Linked DNA regions of Homo sapiens: all the other regions are reported to be linked to region 2. Evidence: microRNA targets listed by miRTarBase, many of them from high-throughput screens and not tested one by one. Region 2 holds a microRNA gene; each other region holds the end of a gene's coding sequence.
What was found. Region 2 holds the annotated microRNA hsa-miR-1224-5p (GUGAGGACUCGGGAGGUGG, at 5,083-5,101, shown strand). A microRNA usually pairs through its seed, bases 2 to 8, with sites in the 3' UTR of a target mRNA and lowers its output. Matches are read on the target gene's strand: a 7mer-m8 pairs with bases 2 to 8, a 7mer-A1 pairs with bases 2 to 7 and ends in A, and an 8mer does both.

Region 1 (8,074 bases), not on the chromosome of region 2:
GCCTGGTGGAGGGCGCCTGTAGTCCCAGCTGCTTGGGAGCCTGAGGCAGGAGAATGGCGTGAACCTGGGAGGCAGAGCTTGCAGTGAGCTGAGATTGTGCCACCACACTCCAGCCTGGGCGATGGAGTGAGATTCAGAGTATACCTCTTTATAGGGTTAGAGGTTTTGACTTTTGGGAACTTAAATATTATGCATGAAATAAAGTAAAATCAAATAGAAGTAGGAGAAAAACTAAAATTGGACACAAAGCAAATAAACTGAATTCTATTTTATCTTATTAAAATAACTACACAGGAAGAAAAAAGAAATGTACCCAACTTTTGAATACAATACTTTTTGAATAAATACTTTCAGTCTAAAGACATAAAAGAACTACAAAGAAATGTCAAATTCTACTTAATTTTGGTGTTTGGGAGGGCATGGGTTTGGCAATTCTGAAATTCTAAGGTGTGTATCATAAAATGAAGCAAACAAGTAAATACACAGATGTCCTGACTGTGGGGGAAGAGACAAACATGGAATGAGGGAAGACAAGCAAGAACTCTGTGATGTGAGATTGCAAGGAGTGGTATTGGTGTGAATTTATGCTGTATTTAGATGTCTCCTGAAAGGCCCTAAAGTGATACCACCCTAGTAGCAACAAGTGCCCCTGATTCTAAATAATATTCTCCTGCAAAGGAAATATGGGTCCTTTCAGAAATGGCTGATTCTAGGATTGGGTTACAGAAAGTACAAATAAATCTAAAACATTTTTGTTAAACGAGGAGTAAGCAAATGCTCAAGAAAATTGAAAAACTCATAGAAATAAGACCGATGGGGTTCTGACTGGTTAAGTCTAGGATAGAAATTGATTACGTAACCTTTTGAATTAGAAAAAAGAGAATTCGGCCGGGCATGGTGGCTCACGCCGGTAATCCCAGCACTTTGGGAGGCTGAGGCAGGCAGATCATGAGGTCAGGAGATCAAGACCATCCTGGGTAACACGGTGAAACCCCGTCTCTACTAAAAATACAAAAAAAATTAGCGAGCGTGGTGGTGGGCGCTGTAGTCCCAGCTGCTGGGGAGGCTGAGGCAGGAGAATGGCATGAACCCGGGAGGCGGAGCTTGCAGTGAGCCGAGATCGCGCCACTGCACTCCAGCCTGAGTGACAGAGCGAGACTCCATCTCAAAAAAAAAAAAAAAAAAAAAAGAAAAGAAAAGAAAAAGAAAAAGAAAAAAGAGAATTCATTAGTTCATACTGATAATACATATTCATAAATGATGGAGAAAGGAAAGCTCTTCCTTGTAGTAAATGGCAATGGCAACTAATGTGTTGGGAATGAAAAAGTTTAAAAATACGCATCTCTCTACATATTACTTATTACACAAGGAAAACTGATAGCAGGAGAGAAACATGGTAGACACTATCTAATCAAATAATCAAAGCTAATATCACCAATAAAGGGATAAACATACATTATGTGCACCCTGATTTGATGCAGAGGACAACACTTCTTTGGTTTTCCTATGAAAAATGCATAACCAAAATTTAAGCATAAGGAAAAATTCAGACAAATCCACATCAAAGCACATTCTACAATCCTGAAATTTTTCAAACACACAACTAACTGTCATGAAGCAATGAATAATGAGCTCTTCCAGGTTAAAAGAGATTAAAAAAAAAAAGGGCAGAACAATTGAATGCAATGCAGGATCTTTGGATCATGAACCAGGAAAAATAATGCTTGAAAGGATATTATTAGGGTCACTGGAGAAATTTGAAATGAATTACATATTAGACCATATTATTGTATTAATGTTAAATTCCCTGAATCTGATCATTGTACTTTGGCTATTTAGGAGGACATCTCTGTTCTTAGGAAATGCATACACATCTTTATAGGTAAAGTGAAACAATGAGATGCAGTAAATTAATAAGTAGGGTGTGTGGGTATGTGTACAGGAGGAGAGAGGATGGGAAGTGAAGAGAGCAAGCAAATAGTTCTGTAAACATTCCAGCACATCTCTTGGTAAACACATATACATATTACTGTTCAGTACATATCACTGAATTAAATTTGCTGGTCAAAGTCATGTGTATACTTAGCTTTAGTGGATACTGCCAGAAACATTTTCCAAGGTTGTTCCACTCTACATTCCCTTTTAAAACAGCTTTCAGTTTTGGGTTTTACATTTAAGTCTTTAATCCATCTTGAGCTGCTCTTTGTGTATGGTGTAAGGAAGCCGGGGTGATTCTTCAAAGACCTAAAAGCAGAACTACTACTCAACATAGCAATCCCATTACTGGGTATATACCCAGAGAAATATAAATCTTTCTACCATAAGGACACATGCATATGAACGTTCACTGCAGCGCTATCCACAACAGCGAAGACATGGAATCAACCTAAATGTTCATCAATGACAGACTGGATAAAGAAGATGTGGTACATATATACCATGGAATACTAAGCAGCCATAAAAAGAATGAGATCATGTCTTTTGCAGGAACACGGATAAAGCTGGAGGCTATTACCCTTAGCATACTAATGCAGGAACAGAAAACCAAATACTACATGTTCTCACTTATAAGTAGGAGCCAAATGATGAGAACTTATGAACACATGGAGGGAAACAACAGACAAAATGGTCTACTGGAGTGGGGGTGTGGGAGGATGGCAAGTAACAGAAAAGGTAACTGTTGGGTACTAAGCTTAATACCTGGGTGATGAAATAGTATGTACAACAAACCCCTGTGACACGTGTCTACCTATGAAACCAACCTTCACATGTACCCTCAAACCAAAAATAAAAGTTGGAGAAAACAACAGCTTTCACTCTTATTGGACACCTTCTTACTTTCAATGATGTCTTTTGATGAAGTGCTTAAAGTTTTAATGTAGCATAATTTATTTTTTTCCTTTATATTTAGTGCTTTTTGTGTCCCATTAAAGAAATATATGCTTACCCTAAGGTCATGAAGATATTCTCCTATATAAACTAATGTCTTTATTGTTTTGCTTTTCACAATTATTTTTCAATCTCTAATTGTTTGTGGTGTGAGATAAGACTTTTTGTTCCATATAGATATCCAATTAATCTACCATCTTTTTTTTTTTTTTTTTGAGACGGAGTCTTGCTCAGTCGCCCAGGCTGGAGTGCAGTGGCACGATCTCTGCTCACTGCAAGCTCCACCTCCCAGGTTCATGCCATTCTCCTGCCTCAGCCTCTCGAGTAGCTGGGACTACAGGCGTTCGCCACCACACCCGGTTAGTTTTTTGTATTTTTAGTACAGACGGGGTTTCACCGTGTTACCCAGGATGGTCTCGATCTCCTGACCTCGTGATCCACCTGTCCTGGCCTCCCAAAGTGCTGGGATTACAGGCATGAGCCACCACACCCGGCCTAATCCACCATCTTTTATTGAACAGACTGTCTTCTTTACTGAGCAGACAGCAGTATCACCTTCTTCAGAAATCAGTTTCTTTCTGAACTTTTGACCAATATATTGTCTTTCTTACTCAGCTTTCTAATAAATCATGATTATCTGATACTGAAGACCAGACACTCAATTCTTCCATGATGGCTTAGCTATTCTTTGATTTTACATTTCCATATAAACTCTACAATCAGTTTAATTTCCAAAAAATAAGCCTGGGTGAGATTTTCACTGTCAATATAATTTAAGAGAACTGATATCTTTTAATCAATATTGTCTGCCAGTAATGAATATGGTATATCCTTCCTATTTTGGTCTTCACTTTGTTATATATCTGATATTTTCAATGGTATTACAAATGGTAATACATAAATTTCATATTTGTTTGCATATAAAAAGTGAAAGAGTTTTATTGTTTTTTGTTGACTTTTAAAGTTCATCTTTCAGAATAGTATATAAAATGTCCTACTCCCAAAAAGTTTATTCTCCTGTTTCTCACATCATACTCTCATAAAGTCCACGACTAACTTCATTTTGCCACCTGCTTTTTTTTGTTTTTCCTCTATGTACCTTGCCCATCTTGATAAATAATACAACTAAACTCTTAAATCAAAATCCTGGGAGCTATCTTTAACTTTTTCTGACATCCAATCAATAATCAACTCCTGTTCATCCTAACTCATAAATCCTTTCCAAATCCATGCTTCCTTATTACCATTACCACTGTTCTTATTCGGGCCTAATCATTTTTTTTCTGGACTTTATAAAAGGCTTGTTTTCCCCTTGTCTCTAGTTGTTCCTTCTACTCATCTATTTTTCACAGATATTTTCCTAAAGTATACACCTGATCATGTCATTCCTCCTCTCAAATGTTAACTGAACCTACGGGATACAAAATATCAAAATTTCTTGGCATTGCACACACATAACTGTTTATGATAAGGGGCTTAGCTTGTTATGCATTCTCCACCCAAAATGAAAACAATGTACTTTAAAAATATCAAATAACTTACACTTTCCCATGTGTCAAGTGCCTTCTCCCATCTCCATTTTAAAAAATGTAATGCTCCCTCTAATTGAATGCATTCTCCTATCACTATTACTCCTAACACCATGACCACCACCACCACAATGTAAGCTATTAGAAGCATTAAAAAAAAAAAGATAGTAGTAGGCTTAATCAAAGACTTGTTAAGAAAATGAGTATTCAATAAATCCAAACTCATTTGTATTTCTGTATTTGATTTTATTTGGTATATGCCACTATGACCTTATTTTAGTAGAAATCCATTACAGGATTTTTAAATTATCATTAGTCAACTCCACAAAGACAATAATACTGCTGTGGAAGACCGAAGGGGAAAAAAACTGATATATTTATTTACAATTCCCTATATTGTAAACATTTAATCTATATATTGTTACTAACTTATAATGAGACAAGGAAATGATGCCCTGTATTTCTATTCATATTCAGCAATAGCATATTATAATAGAACATCAGATTTTCTTTTCCATTAGCATTATGCTTTCTTTAAATAATTATCTAAACTTTCAAAAGAACTAAATATGTAAGTGCTATACAACTAAATCTACTTAAGCCAAATATTTGGCTTATAATTTCATTTTTAGAATAACTTAAAGTGCTATAAGCAACCTGGCAATCAACACTTTCTGTAAGAACAAAACTACACCTTTAAACATTAATTTACAAGATATACAATGTTTATCTGGAATAGCTGAAATTTCAGCACAAAGTCACTGTCACATGTATAACAGCAGGATTCTTTTTTGCATAACATGAAGCTTTAAAATCAACTGATGAATTATTGCCACAATGGCTATTATTGGTTTCCTACAAAAGAGGATAAGAACTACTAGTGTATTCTATCTTTTCATTTTTTTTTTGAGGTCACTTGACAGTAAGTTTGCATATTCAACAAGTCTACTGAGTTACAATATTGTCTACTATAATCATTGCCCTTTATAAGAGCAAATGCTAATGGTAATTAATAACATATACCACTCAAAGAAAATCACAATTTTTTTTTTCCTTTTGAACAAGAGTAACCTATATTTTGGGAGTTGGTGTGCAATAAGGCTAAAACAACCAAATTATAAAACAGTATACCTGACACAGTATGTTGAGGAAATATGCATCTGTTTCATAGTTTTTGTACTTATGTTAATGCCTTACTAAGCTACACATATGTAAATAGTATGTTTTCTTGCTAATATATTAAATCCAATAGAATCATTAAGTTCTCATTCTCCTTTGTGACTTGTAACTTTATCAGATAATTTAATGATGAAAGCATATGCCCAAACCTGCAGATCATATGTACTGTCATCTATTACAACCAGAATTCTCCTCACATTTCATTTTTCTTAAAAGGAAATTGAGAATACCTGCAACATCGTTAAAGAGAATGTTGTAGTGTGAATAAAAACTAGAACTCAGTGGTCTATGAAGTATGTATTATTTTGGCAAGTGATTTTTTCCTTCCTAAGAATAAGATGAACATGTCCAAATGTTACCTGTGCCAACTTCACAGATACAGAAGTATCCAGTCTTCATTTCCTCAATGCCCCAATTAGACTGTTCTAGTAAACGAATCAATATAGTTAAAAAAAAAAAAATCAATACAGGTTCAACAAAAGAGCACCATCCTATTAGGGAACTGAGTAACATGTGAAAATGAAGTTGTCATTATAATCAAAATGTTGCCCAAATTCTAACAAACCCAAGCTGTTATACTAGTACATGGACGCAGTCCCTAGTGTTAACCTAAAGAACTCTGGGACAAGAACATGATTTGAAAAATAAACTCCAAAATTATAACTGTAATAAATGGTGATACAGACTAATTTTAAAGCACAAGTGACATGTTACACTGTATTGCTTCTTGAACTTTCCAAACAATGCTTGTCCATGTCAGGTTTGGGCCATTCTCCTGCTAAGACAGAGAGCATTTTATTTATTCAAAAGCCCAGATTTCAATATCTTGGATAAAGAAATCTTCCTTCTTAGAAAGTGTACGATTCCCAAACGTTTTACAAGAATGGCTTCTTCCATGGTAGAGATCTCCATCAAGCCAAAGCGCAAATTCTCCTCTGCAATACATAAATAATAATCTGTTAATATTTATGCCTTAAGTTATAAAACAATTTAAATGAGACTTTGAATACCTAACAACCCTAAAGTTATTAATTTTCTCAAATCCTTCCCTACTCCTTTCCACACTGACACAATTTTGTTTTACTCCTATTCCATTAAAAAATTATTTATGGGCCGGGTGTGGTGGCTCATGCCTGTAATCCCAGCACTTTGGGAGGCCGAGGCCAGCGGATCACCTGAGGTCGGGAGTTCAAGACCAGCCTGACCAACATGGAGAAACCCTGTCTCTACTAAAAAATACAAAAAAAATTAGCCAGGCGCGGTGGCACATGCCTGTAATCCCAGCTACTCGGGAGGCAGAGGCAGGAGAAGCACTTGAACCCAGGAGGCGGAGGTTGCAATGAGCCAAGATTGCACCATTGCACTCCAGCCTGCGCGACAAGAGTGAAACTCTGTCTCAAAAAAAAAAAAAAAAAAGAAAAGAAAAGAAAAGAAAAAAATTATTTATGATACAGACCAGGAACAGTGTCCTCTATAATGAACTTTATATAGGATTAGCTTTTGAGACAGGTACTACGCTGTAATTTTTTGCCTGGTATTATGAGTTTTTCTTTGGGTATTTTTTTTAGTATGGTTTTTTTTTTGTGTATGTGTGTGTTTATCTTTTCGGTATGGTTTTAACATATTTAACATGACTTTCGCAAAGGCACAAAAATTCAGTATCATCTAAAATAAAATTTGGGGATTCATGTTAAGGACCTAGTAAATAACTCTGGTTTCCTGCATAGGAAGCTGTTTGCAAAAGAGCTCAGTTTGAAAGGACTTTAAATGGACAAATATGTGATGTTGAGATTCAAGCAGAAGAACCAAGATATAATCTAGGTATAACAGGAACTTAACAGATAGATTATAAGGTCCAATTTATCTAATTATCTAATACATAACCGAGAGGGGAAAACACCAGGTTATGAGAGGACTTCTTTCTATTCTCTAGAAAATGTTTTCCTACCTAATAGAAGAGGAGAGGGGGCAAAGACTATTAATTAACATAATATCCAGAGAGCTATCCCTTGGGATTCTCTAAATCTAAAGTAATATATCAAGTCAGCAGAATTGAGCCAGAGTTTAGGAGGCGGAGGCTTTTTTAAAAAATATGGGCAGTTATATTTCATTGAAAGAAAAAAACTGGTCTGGGATCAAGACTTGTCTGTCAACTCAGTGGCCACAACTTATGTCAAACTTAGTTAAGTCACTTAACCTCTCTGGGGTAGAGTTTGTCAATTATATTAAAACACACAAAAAAGAAAAGCATATTAGGTAATTGTAAAGACTTACACAACTCTATAATTTGGGTGGCTATAACCTCTGACCTTCAGGCTTGCCATCAGGAGTCACATGGCATTACAGAGTTAACTGACTTGTGTGGGAGAGGAACTGACCTATTTTTTTTTTTTTTTTTGAGACAGAGTCTCGCTCTGTCACCCTAGCTGGAGTGCAGTGGCGTGATCTTGGCGCACTGCAAGCTCCGCCTCCTGGGT
Region 2 (8,074 bases):
CCTGTGCCTTCTCGCTCCAGGATGCTGTGCAGCTGATCTGCGAGAGCATTGAGACCCTGCAGGTTCCGAGTGGGCCCCCAGACGTGCTGGCTGCTCTGGACTGGGCCGTGGGGCAGCCCCAGCACAGGGCCTACCCTCGGCAGCTGTTCCTGCTCACTGCTGCCTCACCCATGGCCGCCACTACCCACCGAACCCTGGAGCTCATGAGGTGGCACAGGGGGACAGCCAGGTATGGGATGGGCAGAACCAGATGCGTAAGACTGAGCCCCCACAAGGGGCTCCTGAAGATCACAGCTGCTTCCTTTCCTTCATCAGATGCTTCTCCTTTGGGCTGGGGCCCACCTGCCACCAGCTGCTCCAGGGTTTATCTGCCCTCAGCAGAGGCCAGGCCTACTTCCTGAGGCCTGGGCAGAGGCTGCAGCCCATGGTGAGCTTGAGCCTGGGCCCTGTTCCCTACACCTGGAAGTTTTTCTCCCAAGTTACACATCAAGTCTGAAACAGAACTCAGGCAGGCCATGGGGGCTCCTGGCGCCCTCACCAGGCCTTCTCCCCACTCCAATCAGGGGAAGAGCTGTTGGTGCTGTGAAGGCCAAAGGTGTCAGGACACTGTCTCTGACCACCCTCTGAATCCCATTTAGTCCTGGAACGGAGCCTCGTCCTCACAGTCTTGCCCCATCCATGTGGCAAAGCTCAGGCCAGGAGACAGACCAAATCCTGAGGGCTGAGCACTCAGCCCCCTGCTTGCTCCTACCCTCATTCCTTCTCCTGACCCCAGCCTGGCCCTGTGCCCCATCAGCTTAGGGGCTGGGCAGATGGCATCAGGGGAAGGGCAGCCTTCCTGCTCTGTCTGGCCGTATGACACCTCTTTCCTTCCCATGTCTTCCCTGTGGCCACTCCCCACAGCTGGTACAGGCTCTGCGGAAGGCACTGGAGCCTGCTTTGAGTGACATCTCTGTGGACTGGTTTGTGCCCGACACTGTGGAGGCACTGCTGACCCCCCGGGAGATCCCAGCACTCTACCCTGGGGACCAGCTGCTCGGTTACTGCTCACTCTTCAGGGTGGATGGCTTCCGGTCCCGCCCACCAGGGGTAAGCTTGGGCTGGGGTGTGGTAGGGGGGCTAGGGTGAGGTAGGGGGGCCTGGGATGGCTGAAGTCCCCGCATCTCTTCCAAACCCTTTTTCCATTCTCTGTGCCTCTCTCTACCAAGCTTCTCTACTATCCCCTAGGACTCCACAGAGATCACACTGGGCCCCCTAAGATGACCACACCCTGTCCCCTTCATGGAGTCTTCCACTGAGTTGTCCTGCAAAGTGTTACCCCTCAGTTTTTACCCAAGGTCACTAAAGCACACAGCCACAGAAAACAGCACCTGCATTTGCTATGAGGTTTCCGTCAAGGCTTGCTCATGGCTTCACATAGTTCCCTATAGAAAGCACCAGCCAGCGTATTTTCTGGGACACGCAGTGATGGATGAGCATAACCTAGGCACAATCTCTAATCCCAGCTCTGTCACTTACCAGCCATTTGATTTGAGCAAGTCACTTCACCTCACTGACCCATTTCCTCATATGGAAATGAGGTTTTTCACAGGTGGTTGTCATCAGGGGTCATAAAGTGAGTACTCCTGGCAGAACACTTGACACAGTAGGAGCTGGGGACATGGTAGTTATTTTTTAATGAAAAGCTTTATCTCTTTAGAAGAACTCTGCACGCTTCCTCCTTTTTGATCATGAGAGCTGCATAACAGACTTTTTTTTTTGCCTGGCTGCCAGGGAGCTCAGGGCCAAACTTAAAGCTCAGCTTCCCAGCAGCTCTATTAACCCTTACAGTGAACATGTCTGCTTCCTCCTTCTTTAGTACTGGTCTTTTGTTTCTGGTTTATTAGCTTTGTTGCCTCTTGCTGTGAGCCATCTAAAAATGTTTGGAAAGAGGTAGCACATAACTGCAGTTAATTTTTTTCCCAATAATATTCTCTCTAGGGCCAAGAGCCTGGCTGGCAGAGCTCGGGTGGGTCCGTGTTTCCATCCCCAGAAGAGGCCCCGTCTGCTGCCAGCCCTGGCACTGAGCCCACTGGCACCTCAGAGCCACTGGGAACAGGCACTGTCTCAGCAGAACTGTCCAGCCCATGGGCTGCCAGGGACTCGGAGCAGAGTGAGTGCCCAGGTGTATGTGTGTGGCTGTATTGGAGTGGGCGCTGGGAGGGGTCAGGGCTAGGGCCCATTCTACTGCCTCCCAGCAGGTACTGATGCTCTGACAGACCCAGTCACGGATCCTGGACCCAACCCCTCTGACACAGCCATATGGCGCCGCATCTTTCAGTCCTCGTACATTCGGGAGCAGTATGTGCTCACCCACTGCTCTGCCAGCCCCGAGCCAGGCCCAGGCTCCACAGGCAGCAGTGAGTCCCCAGGCTCACAGGGCCCTGGCTCCCCCGAAGGTAGTGCTCCCTTGGAGCCCCCTTCTCAGCAGGGCTGCCGCAGTCTGGCCTGGGGAGAACCTGCAGGCTCCCGCTCCTGTCCCCTGCCTGCACCCACACCAGCTCCATTCAAGGTGAGATCCAACCCACATTCATTCGCCTTGTATCCAGCAAATATTTATTTACCACCTGCTGTGCACCAGATATTATGTAGAGTTTACTATTAAGTCTAGCTAGAGAGAAAGGTGGGTAAATCCCCAACGATACCATGTAACAACCAGTGATGAGCACAAGGACATGTATTAAGGGGGCTTAAAGTCAGGGTGACTAATTCTGCCTGAGAGAGTCAGGAAAGTCAGAGCCATATCTGGAAGAATAAGCACGAGTTAGCCATGCAGAGAGGGAGAAGACATAAACGAAAATACAGAGACAAGCAACAACCACAAGTGGGAAATAGGGAGTGGAGTGGGATGATGCTGGGAAGGGGCCAAGGCCAGAGGTCACTGTAGGCCATAAGGAACTTGGCCTTCCTCCTCAAGCTGGTGAGCGGCCACCCAGGGTTTCAGAAAAGGGGCATGGGCCAGCTGTGCACCCATGTATGATGGTCAAGGGTTCTGCATTCCTTGACCAGTGGCCCCCATATCTCACATGCAGGTGGGGGCCTTGAGTACTGAGGTGCTGGGCCGTCAGCACAGAGCGGCTCTGGCTGGCCGAAGCCTCTCATCCCCTCCAGGCCGGGCAAACCAAGTCCCCGGCCGACCCCGGAAACCCTCTTTGGGTGCAATACTAGATGGCCCAAGTCCTGAGCCAGGCCAACAGTTGGGACAAGGCCTGGATGACTCAGGTAAGTGTTGGATGGGGAGCTGGTTTCCCTGACACCAAAGAGGCCTTGGGGAGGTAAAGCCCAGAGGACCACTCTGCCCATGCCCCTGCTGTCTTGCCTCCCCAGGAAACCTGCTCTCCCCAGCCCCTATGGACTGGGACATGCTGATGGAACCACCCTTCTTATTCACGGCTGTGCCTCCTAGTGGGGAGTTGGCCCCTCCAGCAGTGCCTCCCCAGGCTCCACGCTGCCATGTGGTGATCCGGGGCCTGTGTGGGGAGCAGCCCATGTGCTGGGAGGTGGGTGTTGGGCTGGAGACACTGTGGGGACCTGGAGATGGCTCACAGCCTCCCTCACCTCCTGTAAGAGAAGCTGCTTGGGACCAAGCACTCCATCGGCTGACAGCAGCCTCTGTGGTCCGGGACAATGAGCAGCTGGCCCTCCGAGGAGGGGCAGAGACCACAGCTGACCGGGGTGAGTTGCTCATGGGTCCAGTCAGGACCCAAAGGCATGGGCTAAAAACAGCAAAGGTAGAGGTCTGTGTGTTTGATCACTCTCTATACCTCGCTTTGATCACAAAGGATTTGAGGCTCATCACAGACAAGATAAAAAATTAAGCGGGACAATGGGAAAAAGTAAAAATAAAAGGAAACTGAGAATGAGGTTATATTAAAGGTGCATGCTGTGAGGTTATATACTCTTGCAAGGATCAGATCCAGAACTGACAAGCTTCCTAGCAGCCAGCACAGAGGGCAACGTGATCCTGTCATGATTCACAGCACCCACAACGTAAAAACAAATCTTTGTCATTTAGGAAAATACTTAAAGTTCATTTCCTCAGTTGCACTAACCACAGCTGAAGTACTCAATAGTCAAATGTGACTAGTGGCTACCACATTGGATCATGAAGAGAGAGAACATTTCCAAGTTTTATTAGTGCAGAAGCAGGTGGAGGAAAATGTGCCAGCTAATGCTTCCTCTGGGTGTTGTCCAGAGTGCTGAATTTCTGGGCAGCCAGGGGGCTCTTGCTCTGCTATGGGTTGAAGATTCAGCCTGATCACTTCTTGTCAAAGTTGGGGAGTCTGAGCTGGTTCTGGGCCTAGCAAGGCAATCTACTCTGTTAAAGTCGATAGAGGGAGAAGCTGGGGAGAACACTGCAATTTTTTCTATGAGCCCTCTGTAGAGGGTGGGTGGTGGGGGCTCCACAGACTGCTCCTTGGTTCCACAGGCCATGCCCGGAGGTGCTGGCTTCGAGCCCTTCAGACAAGTAAGGTCAGCTCTGCCCCCTCCTGCTTCACTTGCCCTGTAGCTGTGGATGCTACTACTAGGGAGGTCCTGCCTGGGGCCCTGCAGGTGTGCAGCTCAGGTAGGGGCCTCTTCTGGTGACCTCTCAGGTGCAGCTCTCACCTCACTGGCCACTCTCCTGGACAAACCTGACTCCTGTCCCATGTGCCCCTGCAGAGCCCGCTGAGCCCCCAGGAACCCCTCCTGCCTCTCACAGCCATCTAGATGCAGCTCCTCTGCCCACTGTTGTCTACTCTAAAGGTAACACCCAAAGGTAGGGAAAGGGTAGGGGCACTTGGGCTTAGAGACCGCCCCCTGGCACTGATGATCCCCACTGCAGGACTTCAGAGAGGCTCTCCAGCAGGCGCCTGGGACTCGGACCAAAATGGCAACTCCAAGCGTGCTTTGGGGGACCCTGCCACTCCCACGGAAGGTCCTCGCCGCCCACCTCCCCGTCCTCCCTGTCGGCTCAGCATGGGCCGCCGTCACAAACTCTGTAGCCCTGACCCGGGCCAGGCCAACAACAGTGAAGGCAGCGACCATGACTACCTGCCCTTGGTGAGGACTCGGGAGGTGGAGGGTGGTGCCGCCGGGGCCGGGCGCTGTTTCAGCTCGCTTCTCCCCCCACCTCCTCTCTCCTCAGGTGCGGCTGCAGGAGGCACCAGGCTCCTTCCGCCTGGACGCGCCCTTCTGCGCCGCTGTGCGCATCTCGCAGGAGCGCCTCTGCCGTGCCTCGCCCTTTGCCGTGCACCGCGCCAGCCTCAGCCCCACCTCGGCCTCATTGCCCTGGGCACTTCTGGGCCCTGGTGTTGGCCAGGGTGACAGTGCCACGGCCTCCTGCAGCCCGTCCCCCAGCTCGGGCTCTGAGGGGCCAGGCCAGGTGGACAGTGGGCGGGGCTCAGACACCGAGGCCTCCGAGGGGGCGGAAGGGCTGGGCGGCACCGACCTGCGGGGCCGGACCTGGGCCACTGCCGTAGCACTCGCCTGGCTGGAGCACCGATGCGCCGCTGCCTTCGACGAGTGGGAACTGACAGCGGCCAAGGCTGATTGCTGGCTGCGGGCCCAGCACTTGCCTGACGGCCTTGACCTGGCCGCCCTCAAGGCCGCAGCCCGAGGGCTCTTCCTGCTACTGCGCCACTGGGACCAAAACCTGCAGCTACACCTGCTGTGCTACAGCCCAGCGAACGTGTGAAGGCTGCCCCCTGCTGCTTGGGCTGGCGCCCCACCCAACACACTCAAGTCACTGCCGCCCAGGGCTGGCCTCTTGGTGCTGGGAAAGTGTAGGCTGGTGCCAGCCTGTCCCCCACTGCTTCTTACTCCCTCCCTAGAGCCCTCTTGCCCCCACAAAAAGTGCCTGCCTGTGCTCTCTCCCTCTCCTCCCACCCCACTCACACTCCCCTCCATCCTCTGAGCTCCCTGCAACACAGTGGAAGGGTAGAGAGCCACAGTCCCCAAATCCTATGCAATAAAGTGCCTCTTAGGACTGCTTGAGTGAATTCTTTATCTGCTCCATACGTGTCCCTCACAGCCTGGACCAGGCATCGGCTGCCCCCACCTCCATGTAGGTTGCACAGAGTTGGACTTAGCAAGGTTTATTTGGAAGGGCAGAGTCCAACCAACCCCAGGTCCTGAGGGTAGACTCAGGTCCTGAGGGAAAGGGGTGGACTTCAGTGGGCTTTCTTGCTGTGTTGGGTGCTCTTGGGGAAAGGCTGCGGGCCCAGCCAGAGCTGCAGCAGGATGACGGCATGGCATATGTGCAGGGCAGCAGAGCTGCAGGATGTGGAAGGGTATGTGTTCCAGGAGAGCTCGATGAGCCCCAGCACCAACAACCTGGAGATGAGAAACAGGTTCCACGTTTCATCCAGTTGCAAGGCCTGCAGACCTGCAGCTCCTCATGCCCTAGACATAAACCCCCAACAGGAACTCCCTATCCCTTCCCACTCCCCCAGGTTGTCCCAGCTGGTACCTGAGCAGGTGTGTGAGCCAGCGTGCAGGCATGGCCCACAGGAGGTAGGGCAGTGTGTGGAAATACCAGACGTAGAACTGGTAGTGGAGGGAGCGGCTGAAGCAGATGCCAATGAAGTTGGAGGTGAAGAGGGTAGAAACGATCTGTATGCGGTGGTCAAGGCCAAGGGCAGGAGTGTGTGTGGGGGGGACTATCCCAAAACAGAGGGGCAATAGTTTTTAGGTCACATAGCCCTCTGGCTCTGCCATTCCTTGATGCATGCCTTTGGGCAAGTTTATTAACCTCTCTGGACCTGCTCCTCAACCAAATATGGAATATGGAGAGAGTAATACCTAGGGCCATAAGGTCTTGTGGGTTTGAACCCCTAACTTACTGGCTGTGTGACCTTGGTAAGTTACTTAACCTCATGAAGTCTTAATTTTTCCATCTGTAAAATGAGAATAGTAAATGTAAGTGTACCTCCCTGTCTCGGGGTCTCTTGTGAGCTTTCAATATTAGAACATATGTAAATCTCTTATGATAGTACCAGGGAGAAGTACTCATAAGAGTAGCTCGTATTTAGAATTAAGAATCAAATATCCTTCAATATGTGAAGTGCTCAGCACAGTGGTGCAGAATAGGACTTCTATGATTGGGGTCCCCTTTCCTCGCCCAGGTCACCAGCTGTCAAGGGATACCTGACCAGGACTCTGTCAGCACCTAGAGAGGGCAAGACTTACCTTCCCACAATTTAAAGGATATGGTTGGGTGTAAGGGGCTGGGGTGGAACCTTCCTTTTGGAGGGATCCCTCAGCAGCGACAAGATACTTTCCCCTGTCCTGGAGAAAAGCCATTCAGACAGTTATCAAGCCCCTTTTGTGAGTCAAACTCTAGACTCACCCCATGAGCTTAACTGACACTTCCCCCAAGCAGCCCCTAAGGCTTAGGCCCTTCACTCCTTCCCCCAACTCTGCCCATGGCACTACTGCCTTTTCTCACCTGTGCCACCTGCAGAGGGCAAACAGCAGGAGCAGGGTGAGGTGGGCAGTCAACAGGGCCAGGTGGAAGGCTCGATGCAGGAAGAGCGCCTCTGGGAGGAAGCGCCAGTTCACTGTCCAGTGGAACAGAAACTGGCGGCCAAGGTCAAAGGAGCGGGACAGGTAGCCGCTGGGGTTCTCCAGCAGGAAGGGCAGCCCCAGCACCACCTGAGGATTGGTGTGATGTCAGCAGAGCTGCCAAGGCTCATTCCCAATGACCAGCCTTCATGCTACTCATTGAGGGGTGTGGGACGGGGATGTAGGCCTCAGAGGTTCCCCAATTCCCACTAGAAATAGCAGGAAAACCACGTTCCCCACCCCCCGGCCCAGGCCAGTGCCTGGGGCCAAAGAAGCTCAGGAGGCAGGTCATAACAATGCTTTAAGGTGTGGATTCACCAAGTCATAACTGGGCAGAGCAAGGAAGGCTCTCAGAAGCCAGGCAGGGTGGCTCATGCCCAAAATCCTAGCGCTTTGGGAGGCCAAGGCAGGAGGATTGCTTGAGCCCAGGAGTTTGAGACCAGCCTGGGCAACCCAGCAAGAGCCCATCTCAAAACTTAAAATTAAAAAA
Region 3 (8,074 bases), not on the chromosome of region 2:
ATGTCTCCACAATTGCTGGGGCAGGAAAGGGGAACTTGACATATTGTGCAAAGCTTCTGCCCAGATTTAACATACCTCATTTTTGCTTACATTTCACTAGCTTAAGTTATGTTAATTAAGTTAAGTAAGTTATGCAGTACTCCTGGATTGGGAGGATCCTGGATTCCAGTACTCCTGGAACAGGGCAGAGAGGATCTACTTTCCATGTGCCCAGAAAAAAAGAAATATTTGTGAACAGCCTTAATGATTCCACATGACTCAAGAAGTCTCCTGCCTGGTGAGGCAGAAATTGGGCAGGCCCTTTTCATCTGGGAGGTGGGATAGCAGAGCAGGTCAGAGCCTGGGCTCTGGCGTAGTTCTAGAGCCTGAACCTTGCCATCTAACTAGTCCTAGCAGCTTGGGTGGAATACCCAACTTCACTGGGCAAACTTCACTGGCCCTCACTTGATGAAACATGCATGGTGATGGCACCTGCCTCAGAGGAAAGGAGAGAATGCATATGGACGACTCAGCACAGTGCCGTATGTGGATTCAGGGCTCATTTAATTCAGGTATTATCATATGAACCATTCTCTTGCGGTCCGTGCTCTGGAGTTCAGCTGAGGCCTTCCTGTGCTTCAGCACCTGCTTCCTGAGTGGCAGAAAGGCTTGAGTCCTGAGCTTGTTAGCTGCAGAGCAGGGACACATCATAATCTGGAAGATGAAATCTGGGCTCTGGGCAAGGGCAGGAAGAAGCTTGAGAGGCCAGTTTGTGCAGCGCATCTGTGGGTCAGGGCTGTCACTGAGCGCAGGTGAAGAACACCCAGAGACAGATGATCAAGCTCCAAGTGTGGCCGCACCTCTGCTTATCCTGTCTTTCCTACAGGAGTTTCTGTATAAAACAGCGGGGGGACTCATCTACTGGATTGGCCTGACTAAAGCAGGGATGGAAGGGGACTGGTCCTGGGTGGATGACACGCCATTCAACAAGGTCCAAAGTGTGAGGTAAGCCCCTGGAGCCCTCCGTGCCAGCCTGACTTTCCCCGGCCATGGCCAGGGCATGAAGGGAGTGGGGGCGATGTTCCCCATGAGACAGGGTTTCTGATTCTTCCCTGTCTTAGAGTGACAGGAACATTGCAACCAAGATCGAGCACAACCCTGTCACCAACTGGCTGTGGACCTGAGCCCTCCACGCCCTCTGGGGTTTGGCAACAAGGCCTTCTACCTGGCCAGCTTCAGGGATCTTGTCATGAGTCTAGGTCTTCACAGTGTGGGTTTGTGTAGGGACTTGAAAGTGGTGGGTTGGTTTGGCCTGGACTTGGGGCATGTGAAAGCTTAGAGGTCGAAGTCTCACCAGTCCCCTTCCTCTGAGGCTTGGGTGCAGACATTTGCTATGCCATTCCCTAGGACAAAAGCTTGGGTTGAGTTAACTCATTTCTTCACTGGAAATAAGTTCTTTTTGATTTTCCACTTTGTAAATCCATCTTTTTCCCCGCTCTTGGTAGGTTCTGGATTCCAGGTGAGCCCAACAATGCTGGGAACAATGAACACTGTGGCAATATAAAGGCTCCCTCACTTCAGGCCTGGAATGATGCCCCATGTGACAAAACGTTTCTTTTCATTTGTAAGCGACCCTATGTCCCATCAGAACCGTGACAGGACAGGCTCCCAAGCTCACTCTTTGAGCTCCAACGCTTGTTAAACATGAGGAAATGCCTCTTTCTTCCCCAGACTCCAGGATGACTTTGCACGTTAATTTTTCTTGCTTCAAAATTGTCCCACAGTGGCATTCTGGAGTCCGTCTGTCTTGGCTGGAAATTCTCTGACGTCTTGGAGGCAGCTGGAATGGAAAGGAGAATTCAGGTTAAAGTGGGAGGGGTGGGTAGAGAGGATTTAGAAGTTCCAATTGCCCTGCTAAGGAGGATCAAGACCCGTAATCCGGCATAACACCCTGGGGTTTTCCACTCTTTCAGAGAAACCTCAGCTTCATCACATCAAAGTTACTCCAGAGCAACCAAGCAATTCTCCTGATATTGTCATCCAGGGCTTTTCTTGGCCAAACCCCCTAGAATTTCCATGTCTCTGCTTAGCTGTGCTGGCAGCTAGCAGCTGGCTGTGTTTGCAGTGCAAATAGCTCTGTTCTTGGAAATCCTGCTCATGGTATGTCCCCAGTGGTTTCTTCATCCACATCATCTAAAGCCTGAACCCGTTCTTCTCTGGTTCAAGTCAGTGGCTGACACGGACTTGTATCTCCTTCAGAGCTCGGCTGGCACCCAGCCTCCCTTCTCCTTCCACTCCCTTAGTACACTGGAGTGCCGAGCCCTGCCTTCCACCCAGCGTCCATCCAGCCCCTGTCCTCACCTCTCCGGCACCTCCTCCTCCTTCTGCATTTCCTATCTTCCTGTGTCTTGTGCATGGGAAGCAGCCTTCAGTGCCTTCATGAATTCACCTTCCAGCTTCCTCAGAATAAAATGCTGCCTGGGTCAAGGACTCACTCCAAGTGCACTTTTTCATTTCTGGTTGTCCAGGTGAATATGTGGGAAAGGCAGTCTCCTCTGGTGGACATGAAGTTCTAGGGTATCCTCAGGAAACATCTGGGGAGTCAAAAATAACAAGGACTGGGGAAGTTCCAGTCCTGGAAATGCCACAAAATGTGACCAGTACTTATCTCTAGTTTTTATTAAAGTAGAGCAAGGTCTCCAATGTCACGATCTTGGTGATCTTTCTTCTTGTTTACTGCACAATCTTCTAGTCTATAGCTCAATTCCCAAGAACAAGTCTCAGCAGGTTCCCCACTCTTCACAGAGACCCAGTTCCACAGGCATCAGTTCCAAATCCCAAGTCCAGTGGCTGAAGCTGGAATCCAGGCAGCAGCCACCACAGAGAGGAGAGGAGGGTGGAGTGAGCACAGGTCTTCATTAAGGTCCTCAGGAAAAGATGCTTCCTTAAATAACTGTAACCAGCAGTGTGTTGTTCTGGGTGCAAATGGGTCACAGCTGAGGGCACAGGCTTGTATTGTAAGACCTGAAATACCACGTGCTGCTGTGACATTTTATGCCTCACAGGGCCCCAAAGACCTAACCCTGAGTTCCCTGCCTCTCACCAGATATATCCTTGCCCTCGGTCCCCACCTGGCTAATTTCCTATCATCTGGACCAGCTGCATGCCACCCAGTTTTCTACTTAATGGGTTTCACTTCTCTGCCAGCCTGAGAAACTATTCAAACAAGCCAATCACATCCTCCTACAGGAATCCGGGGCATCTCATCCTTTTATTACTACAAGGCCTGCCTCCCACAGCCCTGGCTGGTTCACTCTGCTCCTGAGGGTGACCCCATGTGGCCCTGTGTGGCTTATGATATCTTTCCCCAGTAGACTGTATTTGTGACTAGTAAACTGCTGCCAGTCTCACCTGCACAGTGTCAAATGTCTTGTTTTGGCCATCTTGTCCTATTTAGAGCAGGGGATCCCTCCCTCACCAATGGAGGAAATGGGAGGTGACAAGAACAAGGCTGGTCGGGGATCTCTGGTTGGTTTTGGCAAAGAGATGAGCTGGGAAAATCAGACCATTTCTCTGGGAAAGAATTTGAACCAGGAAATAGCAAGAGGATGAGGCTGTTAACAAAAGGAAGTTGAGCTGGAAGGCACTGAGTTAAGAGAAAGGCTGGAGGGGCCGTCACGTGGCATTGGAAGAAACTAGCAATGAGCAGAAGCTATGAGGCAGGGGAAAGACATGAATACAGGCCTGGCATGGTGGCTCATGCCTATAATCCCAGCACTTTGGGAGGCTGAAGTGGGTGGGTCACCTGAGGTCAGGAGTTCGAGACAGCCTGGCCAACATGGTGAAACCCCATCTCTACTAAAAATACAAAAATTAGCCGGGCATGGTGGTGGGCACCTGTAATTCCAACTACTTGGGAGACTGAGGCAGGAGAATTGCTTGAATCTGGGAGGCAGAGGTTGCAGTGAGCTGAGATCCCACCACTGCACTCCAGCCTGGGCAACAGGGCAAGACTTTGTTTCAAAAAAAAAGAAGTGACTGCAGAGGATTATAGTTGGCAGAGAAAAGAGAACGGCTCAGAGGAGTCGCAATGGAGGTCCCGGAGGGCAGCCTGAAGGGCTCCGGCTGCTCCCGTTCCCAGGGCTGCCTCAGATCCTCCCAGCCCTTCTGATCCTCCTGGTTTCTGTGCATGGGGACCTTACGAGGCTGTGCTCCTGACCCCAACCATTGCTTTTTCTTGAAACTGAAAGAGCCTGAGTCAGTGAGGATGTGTTTTTATCTGGAGTCTGTGCCCCAGCCTGAACCCAACAAGTGCAGCATTGCCTTGGCTTCCTCCCTTGAGGAAGCTGGGACACCTGTCGCTTTGCTTTGTCTTGTGACTTTGGCTCCCTCCCCCACTGTATGCATGCCTTGCTTCTCCAGGGAGGTCGCTACATGGGCACCTGCCCTTCTGCTGGCAGTGTGGCCTCGCCCAGGAAGTCCCACCATTGATAGTGCTCTAGTCCTGTCTCTAGCAGGTCTTGGGGTGTTATCAATACCTGGGCAGCTCCTCGTATCATGGACCCCACAGTATTTCTTGTGAAATTCTGGGGATTTTTCCATTGTCAGGTGAAAAGTTGGGAGCCAGGGACAGGTGAGAACTTTTTCTCAGTCAACTTGGGTATTTATTGTATTACATTAGTTGTTTTCTTTCTTTTTTTTTCTGATTTGGCAGGCTAACAATGCTTGACATGCCCTCTTTCAATGTTGCAATAAAATACTCTTGAAAAATTTATCCTTTTGTGTTTGAATATAAAAGAAGAGAAAAAAATACTTGAATCACCCCCACTGACCAACTAGTCCTAATGCTCGTGAACATGTACTATATTTTATTTTTCTGTTTTTATGCTTTATTGATCTATCTATCTATTGAATCACTTCATTTTCTCTTTGTCATTCTCTCTCGCTTTCTCTTTCTCTCTCTCCTCTTTTTCTCATATTGTATGAGCTATGCTTTCTTTGCTTTAATTTTCCCAGTGCTTTGGAAGATAAGCCATTATTTGGGTGGGGTGTGTGTGTGTGTGCGCGCACACACGTGTGTAGTTGCCTAGCACTTCCCCTTTTTCTTACAAAGCACCCTGGCTTCTGGGATTATTGGCATTATTCCTGGCATTGTTGCCCTGGTTGGGGCTGGGCCCTGGGCATGGGGGCTGCCATTGGCTCCCTTGGTGACCCCACCTGGCCAGGGCTCCAGGTAGCCCCCAGCAGGGCAATGCGTTGCCTCCCTCACAGATTTCAGGCCCTCCTTTCTCTCTGCCTCTCTGTTCCCATCCCAGACCTCCAAGAACCTCCCCTCCTATCTGTCCCAAGGCAACTTTCTTTTTTTTTTCAGGTCTCAGAATGAATCTCTGTTTTTGGGGGAGAAAACACAGGCTACCCAATTTATGATAAACTCAGTGTGTTTTCAAAAAGGAAACTTTTATTGTTCTGTGGGAGCCTAAAGCGAAAGGATTTCGTAAGGCTTCCTGAGGAAGAGGCACATAAGCTGAGCCTTGAGAGATGAGCAGAATTTAGGCAGAGTGGGATGGGGACACAGACGAGGAAAGAGAGAGAAAACAGAAAATGCAGAGAAGGAGTGTGACAGGCCTGAGGCACCAAGAGAACTCCAGTCTAGCTGGAGTGTGGTGTGAGGTGAAGCAGGGGACAGGCAGCTGTTGGAGGGCCTTCAAAGCCAGAGGAGGGGTTTTGGATTTTATGTGAAGGACAAGGAGGAAACATTGAAGTGTTTTAGGCAGATGAGTGACATCTGTTTTTTACTTAGTGTTGAAGAAGCGTGACAAATGATTTGTTACATTTGAAAGCTTAAATGCTTCCAGGAATAACAAGATCTACAGACATGCAATAGAATTATGTCACTGGAAAACATTTGTCACACTCTTGTGGTTCTTCCTTTATCCTGAACAGCTTCTTGGTTTAGGTATCTTCCTGTATTTTGAGTTCACCTTTTAAAGTTAGAAGCAGAACTAGCACTTACAGCCTTCCTTGCAGAAAAGTGCAGGCATGAGGCTAGATGCTTTGGGAGGCCCTTTGGGAGCCAAGGCAGGAGGATCACTTGAGGCCAGGAGTTGAAGATCTGCTTGGTCAACCCAGTGGGACCCCGTCTCCACAAAAAATACAAAAAAAATTAGCTGGGTGTGGTAGTGCGGACTTGTAATCCTAGCTCTTGGGAGGCTGAGGTGGGAGGATTGCTTGGGCTCAAGAGATTGAGGCTGCAGTGAGCTGTGATCACACCACTGCATTCTAGCCTGGGCTACAGAGCAAGACCCTGTTTTAATTTAATTTAATTTAATTTAATTATTTATTTATTTTTAAAGTGCAGTCATGTGACCCAGGGACCACCGGTCAGATTCAACCATGTGAGACCTTTGATTTGTCCTGGTGTTTTTTCAGAGCTCAGACTAGATTTAGTGCTGCCGTTATTGGAGCATTCCTCCTGCCAGCATAGACTCTAAAGCTTGACTCTGGTCTTCTGAGATTCCATAATTACTACTTATGTCTTTTTTTAATTTTGATTTTTTTGAGACAGGGCCTCCCTTTGCCACTCAGGTTGGAGTACAGTGGCACAATCACAGCTCACTGCAACCTTGAACTCCTGGGTTTAACCAATCCTCCTGCCTTAGCCTCCTGAGTACCTGGAACCTCAGGTGTGCACCACCATGCCCAGCTAATTTTTTTTTAATTTTAGTAGAGATGAGGTCTTGCTATGTTGCCCAGGCTGGCTTCAAACTCCTGAGCTCAGGTGATCCTCCTGCCTCAGCTTCCCAAAGTGCTTAGATTACAGGTGTGAGTTGCCATACCCAGCCATCCCTAATATCTTTTAAATACCTTTTTAGGCTGGGCTCAGTGGCTCATGCCTGTGTTCACAGAGCACAGAACTCAAGGAGAATCACTTGATCACAAGAGTTTGAGGCCAGCCTGGGCAACATAGGGAGACCCTGTCTCTAAAAAAAAAATACAAAACTTAGCCGTGTGTGGTGGCGTGTGCCTGTAGTCCCAGCAAATCAAGAGTCTGAGGTGGGAGAATTGCTTGAACCTGGGAGGTCAAGGCTGCAGTGAGCTGTAATCACGCCACTGTACTCCAGCCTGGGTGATAGAGTGAGACCCTGTCTCAAAAATTTTTTTTAAAAACTTTATATTATAGAATAGTTTCAGCTTTACAGAAAAATTGTGAAGATAATACAGAGAGTTTCTATATACCCACCCTTTCCCATTTCCCCGATTGTTAACATCTTATATTAGTATGGTACATTTGTCACAATTAATGAGCCAATATTTAACTGAAGTCCATACTTTATTCAGATTTCGTTGGTTTTCCCCTAACATCCTTTTTCTCTCCTAGGATCCCATCCAGAATACCACGTTACATTTAGCCATCATGTCTCCTTGGGATCCTCTTGGCTGTGACATTTTCTCAGTCTTTCCTTGTTTTTGAAGACTTTGACAGTTTTGAGGAGCCCACTGGTCAGGTACTTTGTAGATTGTCCCTTAAATGGAATTTGTCTGGTGTTTTTCTCATGATTACATTGGGGTACTGAGTTTCAGGAGGAAGACCATGGAGATAAAGGGCCATTCTCATCACATCCTATGAAGGGTACATACCATCAATAGAATTCATTACTGTTGGCGTTGACCTTGATCTCCAGGCTGGGGTAGTGTTTGCCAAGTTTATTGACTCCAGAATTACTCTTTTCTCCCTTTTCCTGTACTGAACTTTTTGGAAGGAAGTCACTATATGCAGTTCACACTGAAAGAGTAGGAAGTTACACTCTACTTTTCTCAGAATGGGATATTTACATAAAATATTTGGACATTTTCTGCCCTAGAGACTTATCTATTTGTTTACTTACTCAGACATTCATTTATGTCAGTATGGACTCACAGATATTTCTCTTACACTTTGGGTTATAATCCAATACTATTTTATTTGTTTTTTTGTTTTGTTTTTGCTCAAATTGCTCTGGCTTTGGCCATTGGGAGCTCCTTCATTGGTTCCTGTGTCATTTTGACATACTTCCCTCAGTTTTTTTTTTTTTTTTTTTTTTTTGGTAACTAAGCA
Region 4 (8,074 bases), not on the chromosome of region 2:
TGTAATGTCTTGGTTAAGCAATGAATGAAATTTAAGGCAAGATTAAGATTAAGTAAAACAATGTATCTAGTTTACACTAGTAAAATAAAAGTTGAAATTTAAAAATTTAAAATTTGAATAATAACCTAGGAAACTAAAATAGCTTAGAGAAATCCTGAATGTATGTATACATATGTATCTAATATAATGTGTGATTTTCATTGTGATTATTTTGACACAGGTTGATCAAGATAGGCTATTATTACTCTTACATGCATGTAAATCCAGAGTATGCTTTCTGAGTTGATAGAGATAGAGTAATAGAATATTTGCTGAAGAAATAATCTATAAATTCTTATAGCACTTGGGGAGTAAGTATTGACAAGTATAGGCAAAATTAATCATCCCATTACTTTACCTGTTGTTAAAAACCATTTTTTATTCAATTTTTAAAATTATATATTTTTACCACAATCATGGCTACATACAATGTTTTTATGTTTAAAATTTATTTAATTCATTTTGTTTGTACTTTTTGGTCAAAGATATAGATAGAACAAATCATTCATTTTCCTAGTCAATGATGAATGGGAATCCCCCCACAAAATATATAAAACCTTAAAATTTTCAGAATGAAACAAATAAAAAAAGTTGTAAGTTGTACCTATGTAACTAATCATTCTATAGTCTAGTAATGCCTAGATGAATGAGCATTCCTGTTTTTCAAATACATGTTTTTAAACAAAATATTAATAATCAACAAAAAGAAACCAGCTACTGCAAGAACTATACTGTGAGACCACGTTGAATTTATTAGGCTGGCAATTATTAAATGCTTATACTGTGGTTGGAACTAGTTTCTCTTCATATAACTGAACTTAAAATCAGATTTACTTGGAAATAAATCAAAGTTTGTGAAGTGAATCTTAATGTTTATTTTTAGCTGATAAGAAGAGTAGATTTGGTTAAGTATTGAGTGTGATATCCTCCCACAGAGGCTTTAAGAACTCCAAAACCTTTTTAATTTTTAGAATTATTTTCTGTCCTGGAAGGGAATGTTCTTCAATTTATTCAGGTTCAAGAATGTTACAAACTACTTTCCCTCATTATTGACTTTTGGTTGCTTGCAATTTTTTATAGATATCATATTGTGTTAACGAATTTATTTATTTATTTTTGAGACGGGGTTTCTGTCTGTCACCCAGGCTGGAGTGCAGTGGTGTGATCTCAGCTCACTGCAACCTCCACCTCTAGGGGTGAAGCGATCCTCTCACGTCAGCATCCCAAGTAGCTGGGACTGCAGGCTGTACCATCCATCATACCTGAATATATTTTGCACTTTTTTTTTTTGGTAGAGACAGGGTTTCCTATGGTGCCCAGCCTGGTCTCGAACTCTTGGACTCAAGACATCCACCTCTCTCAGCTTCCCAAAGTACTGGGATTATGGGCTTGTGTTAACAAATCTAGATGGTGGCCCAATTCCTATTTAGTTCTATACAACACTTATTTTACAAGAATGCACAAGCATAACCAAGAATAAGTTAATTATTGTGCTCTATTACAGCTTAGAAAGAAAATAAGTACTAGTGACTTGAATTGTATACAAATGTTTTTTCTTTCCCCTTAATGTTTCAAAAATTTTAAACATAGAACTATAATGGTTATGTAATTATTCTCTTTAAAAATGTTCTATTCATGAAGATTTTTCTCAGTGATAATTTTTATCATAATTAAAAACAAAAGCACATGATTAATTTTTTTTTTCACTTAGGTGTTACTTGTAAAGTTATCACCATGTTCTTCAATGGATTTGCAATCTTTTTGTATAAACCACCTCCATCAGCCACAGATGTGTCATTTCATAAAGAGAATGCAGTTGTGACTAATGTTTTAGCAGAACAGGATCTCAACAAAATAGTAAAAGAAGGGTGAAATGGGAAAAGAGAAGACTGTTTTACACCTGGAAAATTTACCTCGATTTTTAAGAACACACATTGCCATGGCAGGATTATCTATCCAATATGGACAATCATATTTACAAAATTGATGTTTTTATAATCAAATGTATTTTTTTACTTATGTAGTTTTTGTTTTATGCAAGAAACAGACCTGTGCCTTCAAAGCCCACGTAAAGCCTCAAAACACAGCACACACACACACGAGCACACACACACACACACACACGAACACACACACACACACACACACGCACACATACACACTTATTTCCTATTCCCATTGTCTAGGTATGAAATCCTCAAGCAATAACAAGAAAAAAGGCCCACAATTAGAAAAATTTACATTTAAAAAAAATGTTGTTTCTATCCCCATTACAACTTGTTTAATTTTAATTTTCATTGTCAATATTTTGAGCTTAGAACATTTATGGTATAAAAATTTAAACTAATCAAAGTTGTGTGATGATTTCCGGGAATTATTATTGAAAGCCTATGAATTTAAAACCAGGTTTACCATGTAATTTGTTTTTAAATTTATGTATACTAGCCTGGCCTTTCTCCAAGCAAATTATTGAACTATTAGAATATGTTAGTTATCATCCTTGTGTCTTAGTATATAGTGAATACAGAAACATCAGCATTGTATACACATATTTTCACTTTAACTCAAGAATTCCAGGAGGTAATTTGTTGATATTACAATTTTTAACACATTTATGATTCTGTGATAATATTATTCAATTGCATATATTTCAGAGGAAAGTACCAGTCAGTAAAGAAAAATGCCAACTAAACATGAAACTATTGATCAATACTTATATACCTTTAATTTTTCCTATTTGAAAAGCCAACCACTTAACACATTACTCATAGCACCTAAGACAGTGCCTTGCATAGTGTAGTCATCTATTATTATTGTTTAATTAGAATATTAAACCCTACCCTTTAACTCAGCAGTCCCCAACCTTTTTTGCATCAGGGACCATTTTTGTGGAAGACAATTTTTCCATGGGGGAAGAAGGTATGGTTTTGAGATGAAACTGCTCCACCTCAGACCATCAGGCATTAGTTAGATTCTCATAAGGAGAGTGCAACCTAGATCCCTTGCATGTGCAGTTCCCAATGGAGTGTGCACTCCTATGAGAATCTAATGCCACTACTGATCTAACAAGAGGTGGAGCTCAGGCAGTAATGCTCACTCACCTGCCTCTCAGCTCACCAACTGTGTGGCCCGATTCCTAACAGGCCACACACAGCCCAGGGCTGGGGACCCCTGCTTTAACTGATGCATTGATTTGATAAAGTATTTTACAAGCCTGATAATGTTATAACCCTGTTTATTCAGGTCAGATTTATGCCAACTTTGCTGAGAATATGGAGGGTATAGATGAGTGAACATCAACAAACATAACTTCTACCATGGTTAAGAATTTTACTTAGGAAAAGTATTGAAGTTCAAATCCAGATAGTATTACATTTGAAATTGTTATAAGGGTTATTAATTTAATAAAATTCATCATCAGGTTTCCCCTATAAGCTTTCTCCTAGGTTAATTTTCCACAAGCATTGTTTTATATACACTGTAATCAGGATAACACAAGCTTAGTGTTAGATCTTGTAGGAAACCAAGATTAGAAACATTAGAAATTTGCAGAATTTAAGAAATTATGTTTTGTGGTAATCTATGGCCAACGATGTTAGAACCTAGCGCAATTGTAAAGTGAAATTCAAGGAGAAGGAATGAGGAGTTAGGGAAGCAGCATACTTGAATATTAGAGAAGGAGAGGAGCTGTGGGTCAGGAATCAGAGAGACCTGCTAAAACCAGACAGATATAAACACCAAAGACGGAAGCCAAATAGGTAGCCAAAAATCCAGATATTTGAGAAGCAGGAAATTTATAGCAACCAAAGAAATAGGGCAAGAGAGGCAGGTGAACACACATGATACCTCAATTGACAATCTTCCTCCCACCAAGCCAGACACGTTGTAAATGCTGCTTCCTATTGGAGCCCAGAAAAAAGGAAAAGGAAAGTTTAGGCTTTCTTTGTCCTTTGTGTGGAAGCAGGGAATTGGATTGAAGACTTTCATAGTTGTAACATAAAGGCAAATCCTGAGGAACTCACTGATGGAGATGTGAAATGGCAGTAAGGAAGAAAACAGAATAACTGAACAAATATATTAGTCTAGGGCCACTTAATTTAGAGGAAGAAAAAAAATCAACCCATCCATAGAAATAGTTTGATAAACAGGTCACTAAATCATTGGCGTTTATAAAGATTCTTAGCTATCAAGGGCTGCATTGTATTTTATATACTCAGTTTTATAAGGTGATACTTTTTAAATAAGCGCTTTAATGAAAATGGTTAGACTGAAAATAATTTTGGTCCTTAAAAGGAGTCAGGAGCTTTTATATATAAGGTACATATTTTAAAAGAATACCTCCTTTATAACAGGGTTTTACAGACACTACCATAATTTATAATCATTATTTTTTACTTTTGGGTTCACCTAGATCATATGAGTTGATGTGATACTTCTAGAACAAAATTATTCATAGTGCGTTTTTTGTAATTTATGATTGTTAAGTAAGCTTGACTTATAAATTGACATTGTAATTGTGTACATAATTGGATATATGTGTTAAAATTTAACATTTAGATTTACTTAATTGTAGAAAATACAAATGTAAAACTTACACATGGAAAGAACTGTATGCAGTTGACTTTACTATGTAAATTGGAGGGAAACAAAGTTTTAGATCCATTTTCTTTCAAAATTTTCTTTATTGTAAAGTATGCAAAATATATATTCATACCATTTATTAAATCAGAATGTTTATACAAAATTGTCGTGTTTGAGCTTATTAAATGACACAGGTTTGAAACTTGCCTTATCTCTGTGAACATAAGCATATTTTATGGATGGGAAAGGGAAATTAGTATGCTTTTGAACTTGGTGAATGTATTAATAATTTAATCCAGTGATTTCTTGTATCTCAACAGATGTTTTTAATTCAATACAAACCACATGTATTATGAAATATATATTAGGGAAATTCTCTTACACAAGTTTCTACATATGACAGATTAATATATAAGATTTATATAAGTAGGATACATTTTACAGATGGTTTATTTGTAAACTATCTGATAAAAAAGTGTGGGATGTGTTTAATTTATCTCAGTTTATTGTAATAGTAAAATATTTTAAGGAAATAATATTAGATGTTAATTTGAAATGTAATGTTCTTTTCCCCCAGGCTCCTTCAGCTTTTTTTTCAGTAAAGTCCAATAAACACTAACTTTTACAGCACATATGAGTAATCAAAAATAGATGAAAGATAATCCACTTTGAAAAACTCAATGGGTAAGTTGGATTATAACATTTTAGTGCTTCAGCTAAAATTAATTTAGCTTATAAAAATTATCAAGAATTGATCATTTTTTTCTTTTCAAATTTAGTGCGTCTGACTTTCCATTTAAAATTTTATTTTGTAGTGCTTTTAGACTTTGTAAAATAGTACACATAAAATTCCTCTATAAGCTTTCTCTAGTGTTAATATTTTAAAAATCCATAGAACAATTACCTAAAACTAGAAACAATTACGAAGAAACTAGCATTGGCATGATACTATTAACTAATCTACAGATTTTATTATAATTTTGCCAATCATAACACTAGTGGTGACAAGGACAGGAGGCTGGGAAATTCTGGGCAGAAGAGAGCGAGTCCTGGTAAAGGCCCCACCCTCAAGCCTGGAACTACAGCCCAAAGTGAGAACATGCATTCCTGTTTTCCTGCTCAAATGTTGCCTTTTCCAAAACCACCCATGGCCCACTCTGCCCCCTATCCTGTGCCATCCCAGGCTTTGCCAGCAGAGCAGGCGAGGAGAAGATGAAAAGCAGCTGGACATTGGAAACTGGTTTGGGGCTGGAGAGAAGAAGTCCAGGCCACTGGACTTCAGGAAAAGATCATCTTCCTGCTCTATCCCTTTTCCAGCTCCCCTTGCGGCTGAGAGCCACTTTCATAGGCAATAAAGTCCTTCACATTCACTACCCTTCAATTTTTTCATGCAACCTGATTTTTCCTGGATGTTGAACAACAGCTCATGTGCCACGGGTGCGAATGCTAAAGGCTATCACTCTGACCCTCTGCCCTCACTGGTGGAGAGCAACTGCCTCACGTCAAAAGGCAGAGCGCCTACTGAGCTGTTTCACACTTAAGCCGTCAGCAGACAGCAAAGCTAAAAGAACGCTGTAAAGCATGCCCCTGGGGCTTCGGGAGTCGTGGGTACTCCCCATTAGATGCTTCCATGGAGCCTGCACGGCGTTTCCTGTTGGTGCCCCAAAGCACTCACCCTGGCTCCTGCATCCACTCACTTATGTGCTCTCTTCCACAAGGGGTTGAGCATAACAGGTTCTAGTGAGTGGAGTTTACCCCTGCTGGCACCAAAGCAACCAGCTAGCTCCAGTGTCCACACTCCAGTTCCCCCCTGCAAAGGGATCAGGGTAATTTCCTGCTTCAGTGGTCTTTATCTGATCTGAACCCAGTCAAGGATCCCATGTTAAATTTATTTATTACTGCTTCTTAATCTTTTCCAATCTGGAATGGTTACCCAGTCTTTTTTCTTCATGATATATTTCCTCTCTATGTCTATGTGTCAAATAACTCTAAACTTCAGTGGCTTAAAACAGGAAACATTTATTATCCTACCATTTTTGTGTGTCAGGATTTCAGGAGCAGCTGTGCTGGGTGGCTCTGGTTTGAAGTTTCTCAAGAAGTCTCAATAAAGATATTGGCTGGGGGTGTAATCATCTGAAGGGTTCTCTGGGATTGAGTAATGTGCTTGTAAGAAAGTGTGCTCACATGTTTGTTTGAAAAAGAACTTCATTCCTCAACATGTGAGCCTCTTCATAGGTCTTGTGACGTGGCAGCTGACTGCTACCAGGGTGAATGACACAAAAGAGAGTGAGAGCAACCAAAACTGAAAGCACAGTGTCTTATATGATTTGATTTTAGAAGTGACATACCATCTTTTCTACCACAGTCTACTGGTCATACAGATGACCTTAGTAATCTTAATTCCAGCTGCAAAGTCCTTAAAAGGATTTAAAAGAACTTTGCAGTAAACTAGAAGACCTTGATTCATATTTGGTTGAATAAGCCAGGGAGGAGAACACATCTTTACAAATCTGCCTACCATGCCTGGTATAGAGTGGGAAGAAAAGACAAAAGGTAGTACCAAGAGGCATGCATATTGTGACTATCATTGGGGTGATATTGGGGGCTGTCTACCATATATTACCTTGACAATTTTGAAAAGGATTGGCCAATTATTTTGTGGAATATCTATCAATTTGGATTAGTCTGATGTTTTCTCATGATTATATTAACATTATACGTATTTTTTGGCAAAAATGATATACTCTTCTCAACGCACATATTAGCGAGTACATGTTGTCTAAATATGACAGAACTTTGATCACTTGGTTAAGGTATGTATCTGCCAGCAATGACCACTCTAATTTTATTTTCTCCTGTGTTATTAATAACTAGCTCTTGAAGGGATACTTTGAGACCATCCAAATATCCTGTTTCTCAGCAAACTTTCATCCACTAATTTTAGCATCCATTTTTGATTCTTGCGTGCTTAATATGGTTTTTGCTAATAGTGATTTTCTGTATTCATCACTTGTGTAACATGTATTAATTGGTATTGTAATCTAAGAAAGAACTGTCCCTTTCTCTCTGTTTATTTAAAGTTACTCTATTATTTGAACAAATATACATTAATTGACTAGGTTATTATCCACTAGTTTTTTTTTGTCAAATGGTTTTTATGTAGACATTGGAGCCACATTATGTTGGCTCCTGTGTTTTTTGGACATCTTTACAACATTATTTGAGGACATCCTTACTTTTTAGCACCACAAGATACTCCAGGCTCTTCTTATACTTTCCATTATTTAAGGATCAAACAATTGAAAACCAAGATGTGCATGTTAACATACATAACATCTATTTCTATGTTAATTTATGTGTGTATGAATATGGATACCTCCAACTGCAATCCAACACCATAGAGTTCATGTTAATCTTCCTTTTCCTCATTTGTAAATACTTTCTTAAAGAGTGA

Region 1: the mRNA of OXR1 is a reported target of hsa-miR-1224-5p. Seed matches in the 3' UTR shown: 7mer-A1 at 5,563-5,569.
Region 3: miRTarBase lists CD207 as a target of hsa-miR-1224-5p. Seed matches in the 3' UTR shown: 7mer-m8 at 2,333-2,339.
Region 4: the mRNA of SLCO4C1 is a reported target of hsa-miR-1224-5p. Seed matches in the 3' UTR shown: 7mer-A1 at 2,234-2,240.

The regions. Positions count from the first base shown.
Region 1 is chr8:106,749,264-106,757,337 of GRCh38, reverse strand. It overlaps OXR1 (oxidation resistance 1), which reads right to left. Exons shown (of 17, transcript NM_001198533.2): 17 at 4,644-6,532. The coding sequence ends at 6,397. Among named protein-coding and RNA genes, the nearest start is that of ABRA, 17 kb to the left of the region's middle.
Region 2 is chr3:184,236,323-184,244,396 of GRCh38, forward strand. MIR1224 (microRNA 1224) reads left to right here and starts at 5,083; the gene lies at 5,083-5,167. VWA5B2 (von Willebrand factor A domain containing 5B2) reads left to right here. Exons shown (of 20, transcript NM_001390846.1): 10 at 21-229; 11 at 316-427; 12 at 904-1,089; 13 at 1,981-2,152; 14 at 2,241-2,551; 15 at 3,072-3,261; 16 at 3,367-3,714; 17 at 4,469-4,606; 18 at 4,702-4,785; 19 at 4,865-5,082; 20 at 5,168-6,007. The coding sequence ends at 5,716. It overlaps ALG3 (ALG3 alpha-1,3- mannosyltransferase), which reads right to left. Exons shown (of 9, transcript NM_005787.6): 6 at 7,469-7,674; 7 at 7,232-7,308; 8 at 6,491-6,635; 9 at 5,979-6,354. The coding sequence ends at 6,192. RefSeq lists a silencer at 5,599-5,893.
Region 3 is chr2:70,824,611-70,832,684 of GRCh38, reverse strand. CD207 (CD207 molecule) reads left to right here. Exons shown (of 6, transcript NM_015717.5): 5 at 866-984; 6 at 1,485-2,474. The coding sequence ends at 1,635. It also overlaps a transcript of CLEC4F not described here. Among named protein-coding and RNA genes, the nearest start is that of CD207, 7.2 kb to the left of the region's middle. RefSeq lists an enhancer at 973-2,172.
Region 4 is chr5:102,230,695-102,238,768 of GRCh38, reverse strand. It overlaps SLCO4C1 (solute carrier organic anion transporter family member 4C1), which reads left to right. Exons shown (of 13, transcript NM_180991.5): 13 at 1,751-4,783. The coding sequence ends at 1,911. Among named protein-coding and RNA genes, the nearest start is that of SLCO4C1, 62 kb to the left of the region's middle.